2 separate regions of the Homo sapiens genome follow, and region 2 is linked to region 1. Evidence: fine-mapped expression QTL. A gene starts in region 1. The other region holds a variant in brackets. All regions are shown on one strand. Distances are between the middles of the regions.

What was found.
Region 2: its variant is fine-mapped to the expression of HK2 in fibroblasts (GTEx, PIP above 0.99).

What each region holds. Positions count from the first base shown.
Region 1 is chr2:74,831,534-74,835,915 of GRCh38, forward strand. HK2 (hexokinase 2) reads left to right here and starts at 2,594. Exons shown (of 18, transcript NM_000189.5): 1 at 2,594-3,110. The coding sequence starts at 3,048. It overlaps HK2-DT (HK2 divergent transcript), which reads right to left and starts at 2,454. Exons shown (of 1, transcript NR_185897.1): 1 at 1,122-2,454. RefSeq lists silencers at 2,086-2,155, 2,336-2,565, 3,486-3,735 and enhancers at 3,312-4,188, 3,966-4,035.
Region 2 is chr2:74,872,284-74,876,665 of GRCh38, forward strand. It overlaps HK2 (hexokinase 2), which reads left to right. Exons shown (of 18, transcript NM_000189.5): 4 at 17-136; 5 at 993-1,088; 6 at 1,561-1,660; 7 at 1,983-2,166. Among named protein-coding and RNA genes, the nearest start is that of LINC01291, 34 kb to the right of the region's middle. The variant T/C (reference allele first, on the strand shown) is at 2,044.

The sequences.
Region 1 (4,382 bases):
AAAATCTTCCCAGGCTAAGTCCAAATTTTGGGGCCTGCCTGCCCTGCATCATGAGGAGGTATCTGAGTGGAACGTCAATGAGGAGGAAGAATGAGTTGGAGACAGGCCTGGAGAAGAATATTCTAGATAGAAGGAAAAGGAAGAGCAAAGACCCTTGGGTGAGAAAGAGTTTGTATTTTTGAGGAAAGCATGCTAGTGTGAATGCCAAGCAGTATTCTGTGGGAAGATCTCAGGAGGTGTCTAAGGGCATGGAGATAAGTGGTCAGATGCACGGTCTGTTTTATAGGTGGAATTAACTGCTTGCTGATGGATTGACTGGCTGTGAGGGTGAGTGGCAAGAAGGAATCGAAGACGAGTTAGGGTGGATGGCGATGCCATTTGCTGAGACAACTGGGAAAGAAAAAGATTTGGGAAAAAAAGTTGAGTTCAGCTTTGGACATGTTAAGTGTGATATGCTAGTCACTTCAGTGGAGATGACAAATGGCAAGCTGGAGAAATAAGCCTGCAACTCCAGGAGAGGACCTCGCTGTAGATTTACTATGGTGAGTCATCAGCATGCATATGATATAACAGTCATGGGGCTAGGAAGTTAGTTTCTCCTCAGGGAGTTTGAAACTGTAACTAGTTCAGAGAAGAGGGTGGAGGGCAGCCCCGAATACCCCAGCATTTACCAATAGAGCAAACAGGGACTCAGGAGCCTGGGGAGTGAGGTTAGCCAGAAACCCTCAGAGTGGAGCACTGGTGCTCTTACTGAGAGAGGAAGGTGTGTCCAGATGGAGGATGTGATTAACTGTCCTCAACATCCCTGAGAGAAGGAGTAAGACAAGGGCAGGGAAGAGAAGAGAATGCAAGATTTGGCAACATGTAGGTCATTATGATGACTATGACAAAAGCAGTTTGAGCTCAATTCTGTGTGGAGTATAGGGAAGGAGGGTTGAGGACGTGCATTTAGAAGGGTACATAGTTCTCAAGAAGTTTTGCTGAGCACATCTGTAATCCCAGCTATTTGGGACGCTGAAGTGGGAGGACTGCTTGAGCCCAGGAGTTCAAGACCAGCCTGGGCAACATATCGAGTCCCTGCTTTAAAAAAAAAAAAAAGGAAGTTTTGCTGAGAGGCTAGATGGATTATGATTTTTGTTTATTTTTCCTGTTTATCCATATATTATTTTTCAACAATGAGTATTGATTACTTATATAATAATTTTAAGGCTGTACACATTGCAGACAGCACCCCACTGTTTGAAAAACTCCTCCTCAGTAGAACATGGCAGACCTTCATCTTCCTTCCCTGAACCTTTTCCAACCTTAGGCTTGCCATTCTCCACCAGTGCTAATGTCATGTCTCTTGAAATCTGTATTGAAGTCAGTATTTCATTCTTGCCAGTTTCCACTGTGTGTTTAAATTTGGAGTCTGGTGTCTAGCATTAGCTGGGGTTGGAGCTTCCACTCCTCTCAGCATTGGTAAGCCTCCTCACCCACCCCATCCCATGTCCAAGATCACCCAGTTACACACTTACCATCTACCCAGTTCATTCACATCATCAGTCCCAGAGCTGCAGAGATGCTCTTTTTCTACCTCCTACTTCTCTGGCTCTTAGAGAGGCAGCATGGGATAATGGGGCAAGCGAATAGGGCCTTAAAGTAGAGGGACAAGGGTTCTCTTCCCTATCTGCCACTTATTAGCTATGTGACCTCGTGTAAGTCTCTTTTCTTTTTGAGACAGGGTCTCCCTCTGTCACCTAGGCTGGAGTACAGTGGTATGATCATAGCTCACTGCAGCCTCGAACTCCTGGGCTCAAGCTATCCTTCCACCTTAGCCTTCTGAGCAGCAGGGACTACAGGCACATGCCACCATGTCCGGCTGATTTATTTATTTTTATTTGGGAAGATGGGGGTCTCACTATGTCGCCCAGGCTGGTCATGAACTCCTGGTCTCAAGCAACCCTCCAACCTTGGACTCCCAAAGTGCTGGGATTACAGGTGTGAGCCCTGGCCTTGCCTCAATTTCCTCATCTGTAAAACGGGGTTAGTGAAACTCACATCCTATCAGTGGTTTTGAGGATGGGCCGACTCTTGTATTGCCTGCTCTAGTACAATCAGCAGCTAAGGCGGCTCACTTTCCGGCCGTGCTACAATAGGTAAGAACTAGGATGCTTTAGACGTGTGACTGGGCAGTGGGAGCCCCTCACATGATCCCGAGATGCCAGACAGTGTCTCTCCGCACAGGGCGTGTGCTGGTCCAGAGGCCCGTTTTTCCAGTCGCCCCACACCCCGGGTCCGCGATCACGCTCCCCCCACCCATAGCCGAGCCTGACGCGGCGGTGGCTCATGCGCCTTTCCGTCCCAGCCTTTAGCCACGGACCACACGTCCCATCTCAGGCGCCCCGCCCCTCCCCCGCCCCCCGCCCCCGGCGCGCCTCCCCAGGCTGCCGGCTCCGGTGTCTGAGCGGCCGCGCCCGCGAGCCGTGAGCGATGATTGGCTGCGCCACGGCGGCGGGCGGTCCGTGGGCGCACACACCCTCCCCGCGCAGCCAATGGGCGTGCGCACGTCACTGATCCGGAGGCCCGCGGGCCGGCAGCCCCTCAATAAGCCACATTGTTGCATGAAACTCCGGCGCAGGAGTCCCGGGCTGCCGCTGGCAACATCGTGTCACCCAGCTAAGAAAATCCGCGGGCCCGAGCCACGCGCCTGTGAATCGGAGAGGTCCCACTGCCCGAGTGGAGCCGGGCTGAGATTCTTCTCAAGTTGAGCCTCAGTGATCCTGTGGCCGAAGTTAGCGCCTTGACGTGGGACAACCGGACACGTCGCCAGGAGAGAACTGAGGCGCCTTCTAGCAGTTGTGACGCCAAAATCACGTCTCCGGAGACCCGCGCCCTCCGCCAGCCGGGCGCACCCTCGCCGGTAGCCTTCTTTGTGCGCCGTCCGGACTCCCAGCTCCCGGCCCGGCAGCCGAGCCCCAGCACAAAGCAGTCGGACCGCGCCGCCCGCCTCCCCTCTCGCGTCTCCGCCTCGGTTTCCCAACTCTGCGCCGTCGGGCCGCGGCAGGATGATTGCCTCGCATCTGCTTGCCTACTTCTTCACGGAGCTCAACCATGACCAAGTGCAGAAGGTAAGTCAGCGCGGGCGGGGCGGCAGGCTGGGCTCTGGCAAAGTGGTCTGGCCTCCATCAGTCTCTTCCTCGACCCTGCGGGGACCCGCTTCCTCCCTACTCCGGGCCTGGGAGCGGAAAAAGTTTGGGCAGCCGGGACACTCCTGGGCGCCAGGAGCCACGTCCGCTAAGCACAGCCGGCGAGTGCGCGCGGGCGGGGAGCCGAGGTCGCGCTCCGCCGGGCGCCCTCCCTCCCTGAGCTCCGGCACGCGCTCACGCTCTCTCCCCCAGTCCCTTTTTCCCTGTTACTGGAGGGGCGGGTCACCCCGCAGGTAGTCAGGGATTGCTGCGCCCACGTGGGAGGGAGCCCCCTTCTGCAGCGCGAGTTCCGGCGAGAGCACGTGGAGAGAATCGTGGCTGCGGGAGGCTGCTCCGCTGCCGCGTGGGGCCGCCGGGGGCCGTCCGCGCTCGCGGACCGCGTGTAGGAGACGAGCGGTTCCCTTCTCCTTCCCCGCGGCCCTGCGGGGGTGGGCTCGAGGAGAAGCTGACCCGGGAAGGAGTAGGAAAGGGGCAGAGGAACTCCGCCCGCCGCGCCCCCTCCCCGGAACTGTGGCGCCCGGAACTGAGGCTCGGCGAGGGGCGTCCCCCATTAACCCCCGCCCCTCCAAATCAGCCTCGGGACCGCCCAGCCTCGTGTCCTCAGGATCTGCCTCTGAGTAAGGGGAGGACTTTGGTTGTTACTTTCTGGTTTGCCCTAAAAGTTACTCGGAGAGGCCAACGCGCCGCGTTCCTGGATTACTTGAGATTCTTGAGATTTATGTCCTTCCGAAAACGAGCTTTTTTTTCCTTAAGCCTCGACCTGTCTGTTCCCACCTGGCTCCGCAGCTCCCTATGGCTGAGCGCTCACCGCGGCCGGGTCATTTACATAAGAAAGAGCCTCAGGCCAAGCCGGGAAGCTCTCATTCCCCGCCTCGGGGTATGGGGGTGGGGATGGGGCCGGGGCCGGGGACGGGCAGGGCCAGGGGCGCGCTCAGAATTGAGTTTCTGAAATGCCCGGGATTAGGGGATTGGCTCCTGGCCCGGGCCTGGGCTACGATTTGAGGTAGGGGACAAGTTGGGAGGGGATTAGCTGGAGGGAGGTTGTTTTAAGAGCTGTGAGGCAACGGAGCGTTGCTCAGTTACATACTTGGAATTTCAATATCTGATGGGAACACATTTTTGGGAAAATGTCTTGCCATTACCGTTCTGTGCGACAACCTGCTCATATTCCCATTCTGGCGGTCCCGAGGGCAT
Region 2 (4,382 bases), 41 kb after region 1:
TGTCATGTATCCTTAGCTGTTTGACCACATTGCCGAATGCCTGGCTAACTTCATGGATAAGCTACAAATCAAAGACAAGAAGCTCCCACTGGGTTTTACCTTCTCGTTCCCCTGCCACCAGACTAAACTAGACGAGGTAAGATGGGCTCCTCAGACACTTGTTGCTTCACTCTTGGGGCTGGGAGGGCTGAGAGGGACTTCTGAGCCACCTGCTGTGGTGGTGGTGGTAGCACTGGAGGATTGTGGAGATGAAGTTCTGCCTTTCTGGGTGACTGTGTATGTCGATGGGGGGGCTGGTGAAGAAATCTGGGGGGTTGGGAGTGCCCTTTATCACCCTCTCTCCCACACACATTGCACAGTATCCTTATCCCCTCCACAGAAACAGGAATGAGAAATCAGGAACTCCCCAGTCTAAAGTGTTATGATAAAGACCCTTGGAAGAAAGATACTTGGAGAGTTAATGATGTAAGGACACAAGTACAGTCATGTATTGCATAACAATGGGGATATGTTCTGAGAAATGCTTTATTAGGTGATTTCACTTATGTATAAACATCATAGAGTGCACTTACACAAACCTAGATGGTATAGACTACTACACACCTAGGCTGTATGGGACAGCCTGTTAACTCCTAGGCCACAAATCTGTATAGCATGTTACTGTACTGAATGCTATAGGCAATTGTAACACAGTGATATCTGTGTATCTAACTAGGCAATAGGAACTTTTCAGCTCTATTATAATCTTGTTACCACCGCAGTATACACAATCTGTCACTGACTGAAACATTGTTATGCGGCACATGACTGTGTCTTATAGTGCCAGTTGTCCTGAGTTTCTTTTTCCTAGGCTAGCCAGGAAGTAACACACAAATTCAATCATGACTTTACCCCAGTGGCAGAGGTCTCTGCTAATGACGGAGGTTTGAGGGGTGTGGTGTGAGTTTCAGTTTTAGTGGGAAATCAATATTCACTTCTTGGTCCCTTTCCAGAGTTTCCTGGTCTCATGGACCAAGGGATTCAAGTCCAGTGGAGTGGAAGGCAGAGACGTTGTGGCTCTGATCCGGAAGGCCATCCAGAGGAGAGGGGTGAGTGGGGTGGCAGGAGCTTGGGGTCTGTGGGCTTTTCTGGGTCCACCCTGAAGACTCCCTGAGTGTCCTTGACTCATCATTGTTTGCTTACGTGGAGCTTAAGGAGAGTTCTCTTTTCCCTGACACATGTACTCAATAATTTTGTATGCGATCTGCTGCTTTGGGGGTTTTTAGATTATCAAATGGATAAATAATCTTAGCCTTGGCACAAGAAAAGCTCTTTAGTTCTTAACCTGAAGAAGACTTGAATGTGATTTCCAAGTAAGAAAGTTGGAATGATGTTGACATGGGAGTGGAATGGCTCAGAGAGAGAATGAATTAAAAGTCTTATCACAGGAGGAGTTATGGGGAGGGAGGGGGGAGAGAGAGAGAAGGAGGAGGAGGAGGAGGAGGAGTGATATATAGCTGGTGTTAGGAAAGTCGCCCTCTGTGATGATGAAGGTCAGAGCCCTCCCATTTGTCTCCACAGGACTTTGATATCGACATTGTGGCTGTGGTGAATGACACAGTTGGGACCATGATGACCTGTGGTTATGATGACCACAACTGTGAGATTGGTCTCATTGTGGGTGAGTGAACACCGTGCATGAAGGGCCCGTGCTGGCCAAGGGATGGGGGTGTGGGCTGGAAAGGGAGAAGGGGCCCATGGGCTGGGTGTTCCTTTGTAGTTCATATTAGAAGATAATGGTCCAGTCACTTTGGAGAGCCGAGCAGGGACTCATGGAGTTGGGGGTGGCAGAAGATTAGACCATGTATTGTGATGCCCCCAGAGTCTGCAGTGAGAAATCCCAGCCATCCTGGCCGGGCAGTCTCGGGACAGTAGTATAAGAGGGAAGAGGGGTGGGAAGGGGCCGGAGCAGGCGTGTGCATAGCCGTCCCTTGTTTTGGCAGGCACGGGCAGCAACGCCTGCTACATGGAAGAGATGCGCCACATCGACATGGTGGAAGGCGA[T/C]GAGGGGCGGATGTGTATCAATATGGAGTGGGGGGCCTTCGGGGACGATGGCTCGCTCAACGACATTCGCACTGAGTTTGACCAGGAGATTGACATGGGCTCACTGAACCCGGGAAAGCAACTGTGAGTAGGCCCTTCCTGTGCGAGTGGGCTTGGCGGGGGCCTGGAGCTGAGTCTGGGGCTGGTCGGGGCCAGGGGGTTGTTTCTTTACAGTCTTACATCCCCAAAGCTTGCCAAGGTGGCCACTGGTCATAGGAATGTCTGTGACTATAAATTGCTGAGAGGATCTAAAACAGAGAGCAAGCGGATATACCAGATTATAGCTAATAATGTGTTTCCTTCACAGGAGTCATTTTGGAAGGTTCTATTCTGAGTGTAAGTGGGTGGCCCTGCTCTTTCTTTCCACCTTCTATTTGTAAATTGTCCATGGGAACTGTGAGCCACCTAAGGAAAGTTGTGTTGAGGTGGCCAAGATTGGGGTCTCTGAAAGCTCCTTTCATAGCTCCAACTCCATCACCACCCAGAGGACAGGCTGACAGCTGGCTGCTCATTGCTGCTCCCTGGGGTCCCAGGGCCTCCTGCTGCAGCTGCAGGCAGACCCATGGCCCCTGGAGACATTGGCTGAGGAGCTTCCTTGGCCTCCTTCACTTGGACCTTGGCCCAACTATGTCCTGGGATGGATTGGAGGAGGGGCGTCTAGCATTTTGGATCCTGAATATTGTATTCTCCAGCCTGGCCTGCCTTTGTTTTTAGTTGCTTTTATCTCTTACAAAACCTTATTTCACCCTCACAAACATTTGCCAAATGTGCGTGTGAAAGATCTTGAAACAGGGATTGCTTCAAGGTCTGAAGCAGTTGCAAAATATTTTGAGCAATACAGATCATCTCTGGTCTTGTGACTGTTGTAGAAAAGCTTTTCGTGCAGATCTCTACTTGGACAGGAAAATTGAACCCTATAAATCAAGTCAGTGGTGGGTAACCCAGGAGAGTCCTTGCTTTCGTTTTTTTTTTTTTTTTTTTGAGACAGAGTCTCTCTCTGTTGCCCAGGCTGGTGTGCAATGGCGCAATCTTGGCTCACCGCAATCTCTGCCTCCCGGGTTCAAGCGATTCTCCTACCTCAGCTTCCTGAGTAGCTGGGATTACAGGCGCCTGCCACCACGCCCAGCTAATTTTTGTATTTTTATTAGAGACAGGGTTTCACCATGCTGGCCAGACTGGTCTCGAACTCCCGACCTCAGGCGGTCCGCCCTCCTCGGCCTCCCAAAGTGCTGGGATTACAGGCGTGAGCCACCGCGCCCGGCCTGAGAGTCCTTGCTTTGTCAAAGCATGGTTTATTTATCTAAGTCACAAGCTTGTTTCACATGTTGAAATGAGTCCTTTACTTGAAATTTCTGAGGATCATACTGGTTGTGTCTGCCATGGCTGATGAGAGGTTTATGAGCTGAAAAGTCACTCAGTGCCTGCCTCCATGAATGAGGCACACCCAAGTCATTCCGAGGAACTAAAGGCCCTTTCAAATGTCAAAAGACAAATTTGCCAGCCAGACCATGACAGCACACCCCCGGCTTATCCTTTGACACCCACCAAATTGTCATCCATGGTAGCCCTGAAGTCACTACAGACAATTTTTGTCCCCTCTAATATATTTCCAAGTAAGTATCTTCCAAATGTTGACTGGAACAAAGTGTTTTTAAAAACTAGAATAAAAACTTAGCAACACGGAGTTCCTTACTGTTGAAGCCAGGCTCCCATCCACGCTGGTTTCCTTCTCCTGAAGCTCTGCCTGTGTGGGTGCACTAACATTTAAAATGCGCGCTGTCATCTTCACAATTTTGCCAGCTCTCAGTTAGCCCTGATGCTGCTGTACTCGGCCTTGGGTCTTGAGCAGGCTGCTTCCTGGAGGCCTGGGTTTCCTCTCGGAAAGGTAACCTTGGAATCCCTTCCACATCTCAGTCCTGGGCCTCCTCCTCGCTGGGGCTCATCCTAGTTAGTGGCAGCAGGCCCATGTGCCTCCTCTAAGACACAGGTTCTTTCTCAAACACCCAGAAATGGGCCTTTTGTCAAAAAGAATTATCACCAGGGCTTGGTTTCCTCTCAGTTCTAGTCAGAAAGACCAATTATGAAAGAAAACAGTGCCACCTAGTGTTAAAATTAAATCACCGGACCGCACTGCTGGTTTGGGGGCCGTCCCCTGCCTTTCTAAAACATCTTGTCACCTGCCTGCTTAGAAGCCTGTTTCACTCCCAGACCCCTGAGACCTGTCATTTAGAGCTCGGAGCCCAGTGCAGATTCCTCTATCCCAACCTGCCTTTATAATGTTGCCCCATCATCCCCTGCCC